4 linked regions of the Homo sapiens genome follow. The protein of the gene in region 2 interacts with the protein of the main gene of each other region in a pairwise test. Each region holds a gene or a part of one and is shown on either strand. Other genes may lie near its edges.

Region 1 (4,977 bases), on a different chromosome or scaffold from region 2:
CTATTTTCACAACAACTGGTAAAATTATATTATTATAATCTTTAATTAACTCAATTATTTAATGGCACACATGTACTCTCTAAGACAGAAGCCTCAAAGGAAAATAGTAATTGTGAGAACAAAGAGGCCCATTTTACCTTAGTTCTTCAATTTGTGAAATCCATTTAAGGTAAGCAAGATGACGTTCGATCTCTTCAATCTGGCTAATCATGGTTCCAAGATCGTCCATCCAAGGTTGCGCAGTCAGCAAATGGCTGTTAATGGCGCTGAAGAGATGAGTTTCCTGCTCCAGAAACTGATTAAGAAATTGCTTTGATTCTTCTGCATTTTTTAAGGCACTTCGAATTCTTTTAGGAATTTCTGATGAAATTGTAAGTACCTGACCATAATTTTAAAAAAGAAAGAAAGAAAGAACAGCAGCAATCAGATAAAATTTTCATAATTTTTTTTTTGAGAGGGGATCTCACGCTGTTGCCCAGGCTGGAGTGCAGTGGTACCATCATAGCTCACTGCAGCCTGGACTTCCTGGGCTCAACCAATCCTCCCACCTCAACCTCCCCAGTAGTTGGGACTACACATATGCACCACTACACCTGGCTTTTCTTTTTTTTTTTTCTTTAAATAGAAATAAGGTCTCACTATGTTGCCCAGGCTGTATGTAACCTTTTTTATTAGTTCGTTCCCTTCAAAATACACATTTTTTGTAACAGAACTGAAAATCATCCATCAAAACCTTCAAAAAAAGGTTTGATTTCTTCATCCTGTACTAATCAATCCAAACATAACATGCTGTTTTATATACACACAAATAGCAGGAAGAAGTATGCCTTTGTGTTGAAAACAATAAGTGAAACAAAAAAATAAAAATAAAATAAAAAATATATGCATACATACATATACACATACATGTAGAGAAAGGGACTTAACTCACTGGCTCCAGTAAGCATCTAGAGGTCTGCCTCCATAGGCTCAGCAGAGGATCCAGCTAGAGAAAACTTATTTTATTTTTTTGAGACAGAGTTTCGTTCTGTCACCCAGGCTGGAGTGCAGTGGCGTGATCTCAGCTCACTGCAACCTCCACCTCCCGGGGTCAAGTGATTCTCCTGCCTCAGCCTCCTAAATAGCAGGAATTATAGACACGTGCCATCACGCTCGGCTAATTTTTGTATTTTTAGTAGAGACGGGGTTTCACCACGTTGGTCAGGCTGATCTCGAACTCCTGACCTCATGATCCGCCCACCCCAGCCTCCCAGAGTGCTGGGATTACAGGCATAAGCCACCGTGCCAGGCCGAGAAAACTTATTAATACATGCTCTACCTGCTAAATATTTTCCTTCAAAGCAAAGGAAGGGCCGGGCACGGTGGCTCACACCTGTAATCCCAGCAGTTTGGGAGGCCAAGACAGGCGGATCATTTGAGGTCAGGAGTTCAAGACCAGCCTGGCCAACATGATGAAACCCCATCTCTACTAAAAATACAAAAACTAGCCAGGTTTGGTGGCACACACCTTGTAATCCCAGCTCTAGAGAGGCCAAGGCAAGAATCACTTGAACCGGGAGGAGGTTGCAGTGAGCTGAGACTGCACCACCGCACTCCATCCAGCCTGGGTGACAGAGCAAGACTCCTCAAAGAAGAAAAAAAAAAATGCAAGCTGGGTGCGGTGACTCACACCTGTAATCCCAGCACTTTGGGAGGCCAAGGTGGGTGGATCACAAGGTCAGGAGTTCAAGACCAGCCTGGCCAAGATGGCAAAATCTTGTCTCTACTAAAAAATACAAAAAAATTAGCTGAGCATGGTGGCACATACCTGTAATCCCAGCACTTTGGGAGGCTGAGGCAGAGAATTTCTTAAACCCGGGAGGCAGAGGTTGCAGTGGGCCGAGACTGCGCCACTGCCATCTAGCCTGGGTGACAGAGCGAGACTCCATATCAAAAAAAAAAAAAAAAAGGAAACAAAGATCTCATTCTAACAGGCTGAGCATCTATATTTTGCCAACATACCCCAGGTGATTCTGAATTAAGGCCAGGCTAAGAAGCACTGACTTGATGAGATGATATCCAGGCAATGCCTTTAGAAAGGGCATTTAGTGGCCAGGTGCAGTGGCTCACACCTGTAATCCCAGCACTTTGGGAGGCCAAGGAGGGCAGGTCACTGGAGGTCAGGAGTTCGAGACCAGCCTAGCCAACATGGTGAAACCCTGTCTCTACTAAAAATACAAAAATTCAGCCGGGCACAGTGTCTCATGCCTGTAATCCTAGCACTTTGGGAGGCAGAAGCTGGTGGATCACTTGAGGTAAGGAGTTTGAGACCACACTTGCCAACATGGTGAAACCCCGTCTCTAATAAAAATACAAAAACTAGCCGGGTGTGGTAGTATGAGCCTGTAATCCCAGCTACTCAAGAGGCTGAGGCAGGAGAATTGGTGAAACCAGGAGGCGGAGGTTACAGTGAGCTGAGATCGCTCCACTGCACTCCAGCCTGGGCGACAGAGTGAGACTCTGTCTCAAAAAATAAAATAAAATAAATACAAATACAAAAATGAGCTGAGGATGGTGGCGCATGCCTGTAATCCCAGCTATTCAGGAGGCTGAGGCAGGAGAATCACTTGAAACCCGGAAGGCAGAGGTAGCAGTGAGCTGAGATCACACCACCACACTCCAGCCTGGGCGACAGAGGAAGACTCCATCTCAAAAAAAAAAAAAAAAAGAAAATGGCATTTATTAAGTGAATTTTTCTTATAGTATGTGGGAAAACATATACAAATATTAGTCATCAGCAAAATACAAAGAACATTATAGAATAATTTCAATCAACAGTGATTAGATACTTATTCTGTACCAGGCACTGCGCTAGAAATATGCAGATAAACAAGACACAGCATCCGTCCTTCAGGTCACTTTGGTATATAAGAGTGTTGTAAGCAAATAATTTCAACAGTGGGATTAATGCAATAAAATAGACAGGCTATATTTAATGAATGGGCACATTAATCACCTAAAGATCTTGTTGTAATACAGATTCTGATACAGTAAGTCTGAAGTAAGACTGAGATTCTGCATTTCTACAAAGCTCCCAATCTGCCTAAACTAACATGGTATCAGCAAGAGTGGGAAAGATGGGCCGGGAGCAGTGACTCACGCCTGTAATCCCAGCACTTTGGAAGGCCAAGATCCACTTTCGGGCAGATCACCTGAGGTTGGGAGTTTGAGACCAACCTGACCAACATGGAGAAACCCCATCTCTACCAAAAATACAAAATTAGCCGAGCGTGGTGGCACATGCCTATAATCCCAGCTACTTGGGAGCCTGAGGCGGGAGAATCACTCGAACCCAGGAGGTGGAGGTTGCAGTGAGCCAAGATTGTGCCATTGCACTCCAGCCTGGGCAACAAGAGTGAAACTCCAACTCAAAAAAAAAAAAAAAAAAAAAAGAGTGGGAAAGATGGGATGGATACCAGAGATGTTGAGGCTGAACTCAGATGACTTGGTGATGGGATAGAGGATGAGAGGATGATAAGAAGGAATCTAGGACTCCTAGGCTTCAGGTCTGGGTGACAGGCAAATAGTGGTGCCATTATCTAACCAAGACAGACAAGCCTCTAAAAAATGGATCAGTATAGTTTTGGACATGCTGAATTTAAGGTTCAATAAGGAACTTCAGTAAAAGTTTCTGTGGTCATTAGGGAAACAAACCTGATTACAGTGGGTAAAAGATGAATGACAAAAAGTAGAGATAGATAACAAAGGTTACTTTCTGAAGCCTGACAATCAAAGGAAAGAACTAATACCTGCTAAAAGATCATGGGTTTTTTTGTTTCTTTGTTAAGGTTTTATGGAAAAGACCTGTCTATGTGCACATGCTGAAGGGATAGGACTGGTTGACGAACACAGGGTAAAATTATAAGAGTGACACAAGTTTACTGAGGTGGCAGAGAGAACCTGGGGTATAAGGTCTGCCTTCGACTGATCCTTTGCTGAATGAAGAGGTTAAAAATGACTGCACATAAATTTGTCGATTGTGGGATAGACTATTCAACAGACTGAATTCAATGCTACTAAATTCATGCTAGGCTTCTATTTTTTTCTGCTAGGGAAAAGGAAAGGGCAGAATGGACAGGTTGGGTAGATGTCTCAAACAGAATCTGAAAGAACAGTTGAGGGGAGTAGCAGAGGAGCTGACGTTCCCATGGAAGGACTGCTGGTGGGGCTGAAGACTCAGCCAGGGTGGCAGACCACACACATAGATTGGCATCAATCTACTCAGCTGCATGACTTCCTCCAACTGGGCCCACAACAACCTGCCTGCAGGAGTGAAAAGGCAGACAAAGCCAGGCTAAACTTGAAGACTAGCAGTAGTTGTGGTGGGAAGACAGGAAGGTGTGGAGGCCTAAGGTAATGGGGACAGGAGAATATACGATGACCAAAAACCTGGAAATAACCCACACAGAATTTACTTAACCTAATTTAGTAGCTATATGATAAAAATGTTTTATCTTGGCCGGGTGTGGTGGCTCATGCCTGTAACCCTAGCATTTTGGGAGGCCAAGGCAGGCGGATCACGAGGTCAAGGAATCGAAACCATCTTGGCCCAAGTGGTGAAACCCTGTCTCTACTAAAAATACCAAAATTAGCTGGGCGTGGTGTCGCGTGCCTGTAGTCCCAGCTACTCGGGAGGCTGAGGCAGGAGAATCACTTGAACCCAGGAGGCAGAGGTTGCAGTGAGCCGAGATCACGCCATTGCACTCCAGTCTGGGCGACAGAGTCAGACTCCGTCTCAAAAAAAAAGAAAAAAATGTTTTATCTTTGACAAACACACCATTGCCAAGTAGAGGGGCCTACTTATTTTTTTGTTTAAGCTTATACTCATTGGGTTTTTAAAAAATTATTTTAAGTGATATGTTCATTGTAAAAGAAAAAAAAACCTATAAATACATAGAAATATATATTTTTGAGACGGAGTGTCACTTTTGTTGCCCC
Region 2 (4,977 bases):
AGCGAGCGTCTATTGAAATAGTAAAAGAGGACTCAGAGGCTTAAGTTCTTTCACTGATGTCCCTTTAGTCTCTGTGTCATTTTTTGGGGGAGGTGGTGGTGGTGGTGGTGGTGGTGGTATATTTCAGCTTCTTTATTTAAAAAATTAGAATAATAGAATTCTTGCACTAAAAGAAATTTCGAAGTCAGGTAGTTTATTACCTTGCCTTTAGACAGAACCACTGTTATATAATTCCAGGTAGATGAGAGTTAGCTATTTAAACTGATAACCAGAAAAATATTATGCACTCCTCACAACTTGGCCTAAGTTATAGCACCCAATCTTAAGCAGTGTTTTACAGTAATAACTAGCTCACATTCCCTTTCTTTTTTCTGTCGAGGTTGTTTTTGTCTTTGACTGACTGACTTAGGGTCATCTTTCATCTTTGAGTCCTCAGTAGTCTCTTCCTGTTCGACCTCTGTAGTTGTGGATAGGACTGAATGTAAGTCATAGAAATAAAGCGTCTAGATCAAAGGCTTATGTATTCTGTACTTCTCGCAAGTTGACATGTTTGTAGTATTATTATTTAGTTCTACATTACCACATGTTTATGACGGACATTGCATAAAAGGAAATTTTCAGGGGAATGGTGACTGACTCTAGAAACCATCATATGAAGATGAGGTGAAGGAATTTAGAATAGTGAGGCTGGAGAGAAGAATTACTAGAGATATCTTTAAAAATCCAATGAAAGTAGCTCTGATTTTGGAAAATCAGAATATTCTCTGTAGTTTCATAAAGTGGAACTGGGATAAATGGGTAGAAGTTTGGGGGAAGTAGATTTCAGTTTTGAGAAGCAAAACATCTCTGTCTAAACAATGGGATGGGATGTTTCACGAAGAAATGTGATTCCTGCCATTTGTCAGCCAGGGATCTGACAAGGGTGTTTGTGAGGTCATTTCTGCATTGATTGGAGATAGCACTAGATGACCTCTTAAATTTCTGTTTTAATCTCAAACTTCTGTTAATCCACTGGGAGCCCTCTCAATGGATTTTAGGTGTGATGCTATTTATGCTCCCAGGTAAAGCTCTTGGTGTTTCTCATTATTGCTTTATTTAAAAAATTTGGACTAGTATTTATTACGTTTTCTGTTTCTTTCTTCCTTTTTAAAATGACATACATAGCATGTATATAAAGTGTATGAACCATGTTAGGGCAATATATGTTTGTTACACATATATGAATAATTATAAAATAAATATTCATGTAACCATCACCCAAGTTTGGAAATAGATTTTCAGCATCTTAAAAGCTCTGCATATGCAGATTATAACTCCCTGTTTTCTGAGGGAGAAGTTTTTGGTTTCATGGTGGTATTACAATGCAGACTGTCCATTATGGTAATTATCAGCTGGCTTCAGATTTGATTTTCCTTCTCTCTATAAATGCTGTCATTCCCTCCCATCTTAGTGTTTTTCCTGTGTGTCCTGCCACACAGATTGGTCCTATCGAAGCAGTGAGCTAAACGACCTAAACTTTATGGTTACTTAAGGTGTGATGGTAACACAGTATATCTGTTTATGGAAAATTAAAAGAATAAACAGATTACTTTTTTCATCTACATTTCAAAACAAGTGTTTGATCACCAAAAATATGCTGACATAAGGGATTACTATTGTCTTTCCATTGTTTTTAAAAGAAGACTAAGAACAGTTATAATTATGTAAAATGAGGGCCACAGACATGCCCCTTTTCTTACAAAAAAGAATTTTTTAAAAATCTCACAGTAAAAGAGGTGGTTTATATTAGGGTCTTTCTTTAGACTTGAATTGTAGAGTCATAGGTCAGACCACTTTCTAGGAGCTGTTCAGTGATAAAATTAATAACAGTGACTTTTGAGTCAAAATAGATTTTTAAAGTACTTGATTTTCTCTTTGATTTGGAAACATCTTTGTTTAGCTTAATTGAAATGATCTAAAATATTTGAAGGATTTTATACTTTACACAGAGGCATGTATTTGGATAATTAGCTTTTATTAAACCCAGGCTTGGCTTTTAAGGTACAATATACAAATTGTTTTTGAGATGTTTAGTTTTTTCCTCTCTCAAAAGTTTAATAGCTGGGCACATTAGCTCACGCCTGTAATCCCAGCACTTTGGGAGCCCGAGGCAGGCGGATCACAAGGGCAGGAGACTGAGACCATCCTGGCCAACATGGTGAAACCCCATCTCTACTAAAAATACAAAAGTTAGCTGGGTGTGGTGGCGGGCGCCTGTAGTCCCAGCTACTCGGGAGGCTGAGGCAGGAGAATCGCTTGAACCTGGGAGGCGGAGCTTGCAGTGAGCCGAGATCGCACCACTGCACTCCAGCCTGGGCAACAGAGTGAGACTGTCTCAAAAAAAAAAAAAAAAAAAAAAATTTACTGGGTATCTGTTTCACTTTGTAGGTCATCAGAAGATTGAGAGAAAGAGGAGAACCAATCAGACTATTTGGAGAGACTGATTATGATGCTTTTCAACGTTTAAGGAAAATAGAGATCCTCACACCAGAAGTTAACAAGGTAAGAGGACAGAACAAAGCTAGAAAAATACCACTGTACTGCATTCACTAGAATAGAGTTTGACTAATTGCATTATTGTAGGCAACAATGGAAAAGTAAAGTGAGCAGATTATTGCTGCTGAATGGAAGTTTTCATTAATTTTTTGAAAAGCTCATATCTTAAGTATAACATTTAATGCATTTTGACAAATACATACAAGCATATAACCATTGCCCTTATAAAGAAATAGAACATTTTCGTCACCAAAGAAATTTCCCTGAGAGCATCAGGAAGAATAGCGAATGGATGCTGGGCTCAATAGCTGGGTGATGGGATGATCTGTGAAGTAAACCACCACGACACACGTTTCCCTATGTAACAAACCTGTCATCCTGCAGCTGTATCCCTGAACTTAAAAGTTGAAAAAAAAGAGAAAAAGGAAATTTCCCCAGTACCCCTTCTCAGCCTATCCTCATATTTCTCCTCATCCCTTCCTGGGCAGCCACCATTTGAATTTTGTCATCATGGATTAATTTTGCTTGTTCTTGTATTTCATACAGATGGACTCATAGATTGTGTGTCTGGCTTCTTTCGCTCAGCATATCAGTTTTTAGGTTCATCCATGTTATTGCAGATACCACTGGTTTCCTTTTCATTTTCCAGTGATACTCAGTTGTATGAATATATCAAAATTTGTTTCCAGCTTTGGGCTATTAGGAATAAAACTGCTGGCTGGGCGTGGTGGCACAAGCCTGTAATCCCAGCACTTTGGGAGGCTGAGGCAGGTGGATCACAAGGTGAAGAGATCGAGACCATCCTGGCCAACATGGTGAAACCCCGTCTCTACTAAAAATACAAAAATTAGCTGGGCGTAGTGGCGTGTGCCTGTATTCCCAGCTACTTGGGAGGCTGAGGCAAGAGAATCACTTGAATCCGGGAGGTGGAGGTTGCAGTGAGCTGAGATTGTGCCACTGCACTCCAGCCTGGCGACAGAGTGAGACTCCTTCTCAAAAAAAAAAAAAAAAAAAAAAAAACAGGGATAAAACTGCTATGACCATTCTTATGCAGATCTTTTTTTGGAACTATGTTATTTTTCTTGGGTAAATAAATAGGTCTCTTGGGGAGATACCTAGAAGTAGAATTGCTGGATAATAAGAGTAGATGTATGCTTAACTTCATAAGAAATGCCAGTCATTTCCAAACCCCAGCATGTGGTATTGTTAGTCTTTTTAATTTTAACCATTCTCTTTTGTGTCTGGTAGTAGCTCTTTGCGGCTTTAATCACATTACCTGATGACTAAAGATGAGGAGCATCTTTTCATAAAGTTGTGTTCATTTGTGTAGTGTCTGTTAAAGTCTTTCTTTCCTTATTTATTTATTTTTTTGACACAGAGTCTCACTCCGTCACCTACGCTGGAATGCGGTGGCATAATCATGGCTCATGGCAGCTGCAACCTCCTGGGCTTAAGCAGTCCTCCCACCTCAGCCTCTCAAGTAGCTGGGATTACAGGCGCTTTTTGTTCATTTTAAAAATAAACTTGTCTTTTTGTAAATGGATTATAGGAATTCTTTGTATATTCTGGATAGAAGTTCTTTGTCAGATATACGAATATTTTTTGTGACTATTTTCTTGTAGTTTAGGGCTTACCTGTTCTCTTAATTGAATCTTTTGCTGAACAGAAGTTTGTGTGTGTGTACACACACGCTTTTTGAGACAGGGTCTCACTCTCACCCAGGCTGGAGTTCAGCATGATCATGGCTAACTGCAACCTCTAGCTCCTGGGCTTAAGCGATCTCCCACCTCAGCCTTCCAAGTAGCTGAGACCACAGGTGTGTGCCACCATGCCTGGCTGATTTTTTAATTTTTGTAGAGATGAGGCCTCCTCATGTTGCCCAGGCTGATCTTGAACTCCTCTACTCAAGGGATCCTCCCGCCTTGGCCTCCCGAAGTGCCCGGGCCAGAAGTTTTATATTTTAATGAAGTCCAATTTATTGTTTTTTCCTTTTATGGTCATTGCTTTTTGTGTCCTGCTTAAGAAATCTTTGCCTATCCCAAGATTTCAAATATATATTCTTAATTTTCTTCTAGAAGCTTAATATTATAGTTTTTGCTTTACATTTAAGGCTCTGATCTTGTTTTATGGCTTAGCATATGGTTTATTCCATGGGCTCTTGAAAAGAGTATTGTTTTGCTTTCATGGTACAGTTCTACAAATGTCAGTGATGATAGTGTTGTTCAGATCTTCTTTGGCCTTGCTAACTTTTTATCTACTTGCTTTCTCAATTATTGAGAGACAGGTGTGGTTACCTATGACTATGTAACAGACTACTCCAAAACTTACTAGTGTTTGTTTATTTATTATAAAGGATTTATCATTACCAAATCTGTTTTTGGTGATTAACAAGCCACCCTGAAACTTGATAGCTTAAGATAATTTGTTATTGTCTTAATAATT
Region 3 (4,977 bases), on a different chromosome or scaffold from region 2:
TGACTTAACTTGTCCCCGCTTTGGTGCCCTTCATTTGTCAGGTCTTTGCTATTCTGACACAAACGTTTTGGCACAGTGAAGAATCTTGGCATTTTCGTGGCATGTATCTGGAGGGTGAGTCCCTAGCAGAATCAGGAAGAGGGTATACCTGTTTCTGTGGGTACTCTTTAGGCGTCTGCTTGCTTGTTTTTTGTCACCACCTGGCTTCCATGTACTGGCCACATGGCCTTGGACAAATTACTGCTCTGTTCTGAATCTAGTTCTCCTTTGTAAGGTGGGATAAGAATGTTTCTGCTCGGTCTCTAGCAGAGTCTAGAGGAATGTGCATCAGCGTTTCAGTTTCAGTAGATGTTGCCAGAAAGTTTGTACCAGTTCACCCCCCATCAACAGCATGCGTGTTCCTCACACCCATGCCAACACAGGCTCTTGCTAACCTATTTAATTATGGCCAGTATTATAGTTGAAAATATTAACTCTTCATTTAAAAAAAACCACAAGATTTAAGGAGTCAATAATTGTGGGGTTTTTTTTCTCCTGTAGAGCGGTGTACCGCCTTAATTCTTTAGAAAACTTTATTTCTTGAACTAAAGTGCATTTAGTTACTAATAAATTGTGCTCCAAATGGAGTTGCTTGTACTTCTGCCCTGCATTTGTAGATAATAGGATCGTTGAGGGAAGGACGCTGGCCTGCTGGTCCCAGTGTGTGGGTTTCTGATCAGAGCTGAGGAGGGTCTTGTGGTGATGAATGGGAGACAGTGCCAGTCCTGTTGCCTTTCTCATGGGATGGGGGAAGTGTCTGTGTCCTGCTGACAACATAGCACGGTGCTGGCTGAGACCACAAGTGAGGTGGGTGCCCCCTGGTTGATTTTGCCTAATCATTCTGCTAGTGATTTCTTGAGCCTGACTCAGTTAAGACCATATCTGTCCCCGTTCCCACTGTGCCCTTTCCCTTCCTCTCCCTGGAATGGTGGGGAAGAGAATTAGATGGGCTTTGGTCAGCAACCTGGTGTTCCTGGTCCTGCGTGGCCGTGAGACACTTTGTTCTGTGTTCTTAGCTGTAGCTTTAAGAGGACAGGTGTGCTGAGGTGGCAGCTCCTGCCTTCAGGGCACAGGCAGGGACTGTAGCTAGGTGGGCTAAGGCTAGGTGCCCATGTGGTCCTCATGGTCAGGGGAGGGTAATGGGGGAGGTCTGAGAACAGTCTTGACTCCACCTGAGCTCAGGCTCAGAGAGGAGGTCTGGACACCCTCACTGCCTTGGTGTGCCACCTTGGTGTCATAGTGTCAAGCTCTGGAGCACCATTGTCCTTGTCTGAGAGGTGCACGTGGGTGGAATTGGGTGTTGGACTGGGCACAGCACCCAACACGCAGCAAGTGCTTCGTAGGTCTTCTGCGGACTGAATCTCATGCCTCACTCAGGTCTCTGTCTCCTTGCTGCTGCACCTGCAGCTTCTCCCCGTTCTTATCCTTGTCCCTGCTCAGTCTCAAGTGGCTTCCATTGCCACCTCCCAAGGGCTGCCCTAAGCATTGTCTCAGGCCCCTACAGCCTGGCTTGGGACTGCCCTACCTCTCCTGTGCCCACATTCACCCTTTGTCTTAGAAGTCCCACCTGCCCTTCAAGCTTGGGTGTCTCTAAAATTCCCCTGCCTGCTGCCTTCTGGACTTGCTGAGCCCTGTTCCCAGCACCTGGGCAGCTGCAGGAAGTGGGGGCAATAGGGTGATTGGCAGAGGACCCTCCAGGAGGTTCCTCTGCAGAGTTACTGGGGGTGAGGCCCAGCCTCTTTGATTGTTTGCTTCCAGAGCAGGAAAAGTCCTGGTCTTGGTTAAAGCAAGTGTGGGATTCTCCCATTCGTCTGATAACCCCTGAGAACATTGTTGTGTCCATTTCTGAACAGAAGGCTGTTGGGAGCAAGGAGGCTCTGGGAGACCCAAGGGCCTTTCAGGGGGCTGGGTGGTGGCAGTGGTCTGCTGTTGGTATGAGGAAGCCTGGCTTGGGTGGGAGCTGGGGCCCTGTGAATACCTGAAGCACAGATGGGTCTGACAGTTGGGGAGAGGCAGCTATAGGCATCCAAAGATGATGACCATGTGGCTACACTGTTGTCACTAATTGTTGGGCAATTCTCTCCCCGCTGGGCCTCTCTTTCCCCACTTTTAGAATATGGGGCAGGGGGTCATGAAGGAATCTTTAGGGACCCTTACACTTTTAAAAATGTCTGAAACTCCCACATCGAGCCCTGGTGCTGTTTCTTCCTGTAGGGCCTGGCGACTGGGCACTTGTGTATCTCAATCATCCTGGGACCTGGCCAGGGAATCTGCCCAGCCCTAGGCATGCGGATGGTGTGCTCCAGGCCAGCCCTGCCAGCATGTGGAGGCGTGGACCTGGCCACCCTCCATGGGATTCAAGGCAGGCACAGCTGTGATGGAGCAGCTCGTCTTTGGGGATGCCAAGCGAGCATGCTTTGTGGCTTAGCAGGTGGATCCAGAGGAAGGCCAGGCCCAGTGCTGGGAGCCCCTGGGCCCCTGGGGGTGCCTGGCACCACCTGAGCAGGACCGACTGTATATGATGTCTGTCCCTGTGAACTCCATACTGACTCCACAGGGGGAGTCTGGGCCCTGCCTGGTCTCCCAGGAGCTTGCGGCCCTGGATGAGCCGCTGCCTGTCTGGGCCGTGATAGGTTAATGATGATGCCTGTTACCTTGGCCCAGTGCTCTGTGAGCCCCCAAGGTCAGGGAGTGGTGTCCCTGTGCCCTTGTGTCTGAGCATCCGGCCCAGGTCCATATAGGATTCCTGCTAGGTCTCCCCTGTCACTTAGGGACCACAGTCCCTTCCTTTGAGGGAGGAGATCAGTTTCTTCTTTGTCAGTTTTGGGCATCCCCCAGTCAGTCAGACCTGCTTCCCCACATAGGTGGACCAGATGAAACTGTTACACACATCGGGGGTAAGAAAGATTTGGTTTCTTCTCAGACAGTACACCAGCTGTTTGAGGTGGTGGTGGCTGGTGGCCAGGGCTGGCCAGGACTATGCAGGCTTTGACAGGTAAAGCATTGGCCTTAGACCCTGTGTTGTCCAGTGTTCAGAGTGTGGCCTCTGAAGCCGAACTCTGGAGCAGGAGAGGGCCCAATGTGGCTGCCTAGCTGCCTCCTTGGGCTCAAACCCTGCTGTCCCAAGCTGGGCTCTGCTCTGCTGTGGGAGGTGGATGGAGAGATGGGGACTGAGTGGCAGGCAGGCTCCCCTTGCCACCCTCAGAGCATTGCAGGCCAGGGTTAGGGTTAGGAGGAGGTCACTGGGGGCCCAGCTTCTTTTTTAGAAGCTACTGTGTTTTAAAAAATCATACATTCACTTTAAGAACAGCAGAAAGTGGAGAGAACAGTGTCAATAGGACCTGTGTAGATGGCGCAGGACAAATGTGGGGAGCACTGGGTGTTTCTCTCTGCCAGCTCTTCTTCCCTTGTGAGTGTGTGATGTGTACAAGACACCATCAAACACAGGGGAAAGGCTTTGTGCATCTGTAATAGTTGTTTTTTGTTAAAGTTAGTTTGTTGCTACTCTGAGATACATAAAAGCAGGTTTAATTCAAGTAGATAAAGACAGGAAGGTTTCTGTGGATCCAGAGGTTCTGTGGTACTTCTAACTTATACTGTTGTGTTACTATATGAAATAATTGTCATGGTTTGCTTTTTATAGTTGGCTTTTTACTTTTTAATTTATTATTATTATTATTTATTTATTTTGGTAGAGTCAGGGTCTCACTGTGTTGCCCAGGCTGCTCTTGAACTCCTGGGCTTGAGCGATCCTCCCGCCTTGGCCTGCAAAGTGTTGGGATTAGAGATGTGAGCTACCACGCCTGATCTATAGTTTGCTTTTTTTTTTTTGAGACGGAGTTTCGCTTTTGTTGCCCAGGCTGGAGTGCAATGGCGCGATCTTGGCTCACCACAACCTCCGCCTCCCAGGTTCCAGCGATTCTCCTGCCTCAGCCTCCCTAGTAGCTGGGATTATAGGCATGTGCCACCATGCCCGGCTAATTTTTTTTGTATTTTTAGTAGAGATGGGGTTTCTCCATGTTGGTCAGGCTGGTCTCGAACTCCTGACCTCAGGTGATCCGCCTGCCTTGGCCTCCCAAAGTGCTGGGATTACAGGCATGAGCCACCACGCCCAGCCTTTTTTTTTTTTTTTTTGAGACGGAGTCTTGTTATGTTGCCCAGGCTGGAGTACAGTAGCTCGATCTTGGCTCACTGTAACCTCTGCTTCCCGAGTTCAAGTGATTCTCATGCCTCAGCCTCCTGAGTAGCTGGGATTACAGGTGCGCGCCACCACACCTGGCTAATTTTTGTATTTTTAGTAGAGACGAGGTTTCTCCATGTTAGCCAGGCTGGTCTCGAACTCCTGACCTCGGGTGATCTGCCTGCCTCAGCCTCCCAAAGTGCTGGGATTACAGGCGTGAGCCACTGCGCCTGGCTGCTTTACTCATTATTTACTTATTTATTTATTTATTCATATTATTATTATTATTATTATTATTATTTGAGACAGAGTCTAGCTCTGTTGCCCAGCGTGGAGTGCAGTGGCACGATCTCGACTCACTGCAAACTCTGCCTTCCAGGTTCAAGCAATTCTCCTGCCTCAGCCTCCCGAGTAGCTGGGATTACAGGAGCCCACCACCACGCCCGGCTAATTTTTGTATTTTTAGTAGAGATGAGGTTTCACCATGTTGGTCAGACTGGTCTCAAACTGTTGACCTCAGATGATCCACTCGCCTCAGCCTCCCAAAGTGCTGGGATTACAGGCGTGAGCCACCGCGCCCAGCCTTTACTCATTTTTTAAAGCCACCTTCTTTGTTGGATGTTTCCACATAATCAAAGGTGGAGAGAGTAATAGAGTGAGTCCATGTATGCTCCTGCCCTGCACCTGCAGTTTGCAGCTGTGGCCGGTCTTGTTTCTACCGCAGTTCATCCTGTGTAGCTGTGTCTGTAAGTATATCA
Region 4 (4,977 bases), on a different chromosome or scaffold from region 2:
CTGAATACTGATGGCAATTGTTTTAGAATTGTAATAAGTACTAAAAAAAAGTGTCCATAATTAATAAGAACAGTATTGCTTCTTTCGATAATACAAGCCTTATTATGTACAAGCTATCTAAGAATGATATGAGAAAACAAGCAAAAACTAATTTTACACAGTCAGGTAAGAAAAAGAAAATGTTAACAGTGCCATATTTCAATAAATCTATGTATGGCAAATTAGATTCCATTTAATGAAGTAAAAATTAAAATGTGAGAATTATCTTAAAAGTTTCATGTTACTGAACGGAATACTTCAGTATCTTTTTTTTTTTTTTTTTTGAGACAGGGTCTCATTCTGTCGCCCAGGCTGGGGTACAGTGGCACAATCATGGCTCACTGCAGCCTTGACCACCTGGGCTCAATCAATCCTCCTGCCTCAGTCTCCTGAGCAGCTGGGACTACACTTGCATACCACCATCTCCAGCTAGTTTTTTGTATTTTTTGTAGAGATGGGGTTTTGCCATGTTGCCCATACAGGTGTGAGCCACCATGCCCGGGCAATAATATCTTCAATAACGAAAAGCTAATAAATTATATGTGATCTTCCCTACATTCTTTCTGTGACATATAGTATAAAACCAATCACAGCTACCCTTCTGGAGACATCTGGAATTTGTAACAACAATCCGTCTTCAGAAGCTGGACTAAAACACGTAAGCTGGGGAGTTGTAGGGTAGATACTATTCTACCTCTCGTGAAACAGGCAAAGGAATCAGGTCAAATGAATTATGAAGCAAACAAAGAAGCAAAGATGGAAGATGGAGATCCTCAGCTGCTCATAAGATAGTGCTGAATCTTGGGAAGTTCTAATTTTTCTGAAGTCTGCTATTTTCTCAGTTTACTAGTCAAAACTGTATGAATAATATGATTACAACTGTAATAGAAAATAGTGCATAAAATAAGAAATCTGCTAGTTGATAGTGGCTTTTTTTATAATTAATTTCCCCGTTCTGCTTAGACTAGTTTAAGTTAGTTTCTTTTACTTGCAATCACGAAGTCTATCAAATATACAAAGCCTGCGTAGAAAAATAAAATAGTAAAGTCCTAGAGAAAAAAATGTAAACAAAAGTCACAAAACTGAAACAGGAACTTTCGAAAAAGAATTAAGTAGTCAACAGTATCATATGCTACAAAAATGTAAAATAAGAAAACAGAGACTTAATAATATGAAGGTAACAAGGGCATTTCAATAATTGTGAGGCAGAAAGCCAGACTGCCATGAGTTCAAAAATGAACGAGAAAATAGGTTATGCAGATTTTAACATTTATCTAATATTAAAATTTTCACGCATATCATCCAAATAAAGTTTAATGTAACAGGCTCTAACAATCAAAATATATCATATATTTTCACAGACAATAGCTATATCTTAATGAATAATCTTAACACAAAATCCCTAGCTGCTCTGAATTTTTCTTTCTTAAGTCCACCCAACCCCTACAGACTTTTCCTTTTTTTTTTTTTTTTTTGAGACAGGGTCTGGCTTAGTCGCCCAGGCTAGAGTGCGGTGGTGGGATCTTGGCACACTGCAGCCTCTGCCTCCCAGGCTCAAGCAAGCCTCCCACCTCAGCCTCCCAAGTAGCCGGGATGATAGGCATGCACCACCAATCCCACCTAATTTTTGTATTTTTAGTAGAGACAGGGTTTCACCATGTTGCCCAGGCTGGTCTCGACCTCCTGAGCTCAAGTGATCTGCCCGCCTTGGCCTCCCAAAGTGCTGAGATTACAGGCATGCGCCACCACACCCAGCTGAGACCTATTTTTATTAAAATATTAACTCTTAAGTTGTACCTACTGCTGATGTCTTCTAATCCTCACAAAGTCACAGAATATTCTAATAGCTAGTATCAAACTGTAATAAATTCTAAAGATGCTTACTCACCTTGTAATCCTATGGAGGAGAAAAATTGTCCTTTTACTTTCAACAGTTATATCCCGACTAAGTTTCACAAGTCTCTCATATTTGTCATGCCTTGCATCAAGTTCCTGCTGAAATGCTAAAAACACATTATGATCATAAGCATGTATATTCTATACTCAAAGCCTACCAAACAATATTTTTAAGATGTACGTCACATATGCTGGGTGCGGTGGCTCACGCCTGTAATCTCAGCACTTTGGGAGGCCACGGTAGGTGGATCATGAGGTCAAGAGATCAAGACCATCCTGGCCTAGACGGTGAAACCCCGTCTCTACTAAAAATAAAACAATTAGCTGGGCATGGTGGCATGTGCCTGTAGTCCCAGCTACTCGGGAGGCTGAGGCAGAAGAATCGCTTGAACCCCGGAGGCAGAGGTTGCAGTGAGTCGAGATCAAGTCACTGCACTCCAGCCTGGTGACAGAGCGAGACTCCGTCTCAAAAAAAAGAAAAAAAAAAAAAGATGTCACAATGTAAATGCAGACAATGACTGCAGTCACCTGACTTCATTCAGAAGTAGAACACGATGGTAATGACACTAATTCTCAAAACACAAAAAGGTGATTATAAACAATCTCTAGCATCTACTGACTCTAGTGTTAATTGTCAAATATCCTAGGTATACATCACTAACAGCGCTAAAGTAGCTCAAGAGGTCCAGTTAATGTTCCCAGATTTCTAAACCTTTAAAACTAAATATCTAATAATTTCTGTAAATGCCAACAACGCACAGCAGCTCACAAATTCCTGAATCCTTGAAGATTTTCTAAAAATCTGTCAATTGTAGTAAGGTAGCACGTGTATATTAAAATGAACATGAAACAACTTCTTAAAAGTGAGTGCCACAGTATGTGTATTGTATCTTAATTTTTTAAAAAGCTACCAAATTATATCACATTTAAATACTAAGTAAAAATCTAGTTAGCCCGTTTATTTTAGAAAGTACATAATCTCAAATTTACTGTTTTACCATGTAGTAATATTGCATACATAAGCATAATATACTTCAGAAATATTATTTTCAGAAAGATTAGTAAAGAAGAAAAAAGGAAAAATGACTGAAAATAGACAATCACTACATGAGTTAGTTTTGTTATAACTAGAGAACTAGATCATAAAGTAGTTCTGCAATCAATAGAAAGCTGTGGCAGAGTTCATCTGAAAATGATCAGTAAGAAACATCAAAATTTAATTAGGCTGGAAAAAAGTCAGCTGAAAATTGAGTTAGTCAGGATGTTAGAAATCTAGGAAGAGAACTGAAAGTAGGAGAAAATGAAGAAGAGTTCCTGAGATCGATGAAAGGCTGAACGCAGGCTGTGGTGTCCAATTCTTACATACTATCTTCGAAGACTCAACACTTCCACATAGAATTAATCTTCAACCTGTCAAATTGTTACGGACACAAATCTCCCATAACATAATATTACATTAAGAAAAGATTTCCTCCCCACTTTCATACATCCTTTTCCTTACAGAACAAAGCATTTTCACAATTCTAACATGTCTTGCCTTCAGGAAAATTTTCATACATTTGTCTCCTTAAATGTCAGCACTTTGATTCCTTATAGTTACTGTTTTCTCCTTACCTGTATTCGATCAGCACTTAATGCTGAATGGAATACTTTTGTTTCTATCTATTACATATAACTGCCAATCTGCTTACCTTTTATGCTAACTTAAGTTTCATCTACTCTGCTTAATTTGTTTTAGTCTCGAATATTGAGACTCAAAGAATTTTACCTTGGTAAACTTTTTACGGAAAGCCTAACTTGAGACTGCCAAACAAAAACAGTGTTTTAAGTTTTTTTAAAGAACAAGCTTTCATTATACCACTATCAGATGTTTCAGCCTCAAAATTTTTTCCTTACTAAAATTCTTAACAGTTAACAAAATAATTACTTTGTATTATTGTTTAAAAGACTACATCTAAAGTTTTGTGAATATACTTAGAGCAAAAGGTATTAAATAAATTTAACTGAAGAAAGACTGTTTACCTTTTCCAGAACACAAAGCTATACTTACAGAACGTTGTATATACCTAACATTTAATAAAACAGTACAACAACTGGGAGTCTACATAAAGATTACATTACCTATGGGAAAAATAACCCGCAGAATCTAGAATCTTTTCATAGTAAATTCATGCCTCTAACACATTAAACTGCCTCATGTCCTGCCCTTAGCTCATGAGCCAGGCAGACTATGTCTTCTTGCTAGTCCTGATTCTCTAAGCTTGTACCTTTCTTGATGCCTCTATTTTTGCTACTGCCTCTCATCATCTCACATTTCACTTTCATCATTCAGATATCATTCTGCTCAAGGACTGCTTAAGAATCACGTGCCTCCCTCCTCCCTTACTCTCCATTCCTTACCACGCTTCACTGATTTACATTTATCCTTCGCTAGCTAAAATTATATTATTTATTTGTAAATGCACTTGTTTCACCACTGTATCAGAGCATAGATCCATGTCTAGCAGCAGGTGTTCACAAAACATTTCCTGACTGAACTGCTTGTTGAAATCATAAGCAGTATAACATACTGGATAAGAGCATCTGTTGTAGTTTGAGATAAACGTACTAAGGGTATGCAATCTCCTGGGAACTAAGAAATTGTTGAAAAGGAACTGCAAATCCATGTGCCCAATAAGCACTGCCCCTAACATGGAATAATGTCTTATTATTTTGCTGCTATTACTTTTTCAAATGTATGCTAATGCAGTTGGAATAAAGTATAAATTACTCATAATAGTAATATAAGTTAATTTTATAAAGCACTGTTGAATCTGTCTCATCAGCTTCATTACTGTCATCCAAATCTAAGTTACCTTATTACTTTATTACCTCTAAGTTACCTTACAAATACCTTACTGTACCGGAACTACAAAATAGTCTCTTGTCTGGTCTGCGTCTGCCCACCTTGCCTTTCTGTAGCTGCCAGAGTGACATTTCTAAAATATACTTTAGTTTTTAAGACTCTCTAATGACTCTGCATTACGTTTAACAAACTCCAAA

What was found.
Region 1: the proteins of PRPF18 (region 2) and RINT1 interact in binary tests that used the Homo sapiens proteins (3 or more experiments, as listed by UniProt).
Region 3: the proteins of PRPF18 (region 2) and BICD2 interact in binary tests that used the Homo sapiens proteins (3 or more experiments, as listed by UniProt).
Region 4: the proteins of PRPF18 (region 2) and TSNAX interact in a two-hybrid assay, tested with the Homo sapiens proteins (one large-scale study listed by BioGRID and IntAct).

Annotation. Positions count from the first base shown.
Region 1 is NC_000007.14:105,537,810-105,542,786, reverse strand, and holds part of RINT1 (RAD50-interacting protein 1), read right to left. Parts: intron 1,061-4,977; exon of another isoform or gene 932-1,060; intron 380-931; coding exon 138-379; intron 1-137. UniProt on the Homo sapiens protein: Involved in regulation of membrane traffic between the Golgi and the endoplasmic reticulum (ER); the function is proposed to depend on its association in the NRZ complex which is believed to play a role in SNARE assembly at the ER.
Region 2 is NC_000010.11:13,603,204-13,608,180, forward strand, and holds part of PRPF18 (pre-mRNA-splicing factor 18), read left to right. Parts: intron 1-2,427; coding exon 2,428-2,541; intron 2,542-4,977.
Region 3 is NC_000009.12:92,757,748-92,762,724, reverse strand, and holds part of BICD2 (protein bicaudal D homolog 2), read left to right. Parts: intron 1-4,977. UniProt on the Homo sapiens protein: Acts as an adapter protein linking the dynein motor complex to various cargos and converts dynein from a non-processive to a highly processive motor in the presence of dynactin.
Region 4 is NC_000001.11:231,534,278-231,539,254, reverse strand, and holds part of TSNAX (translin-associated protein X), read right to left. Parts: intron 2,043-4,977; coding exon 1,928-2,042; intron 1-1,927.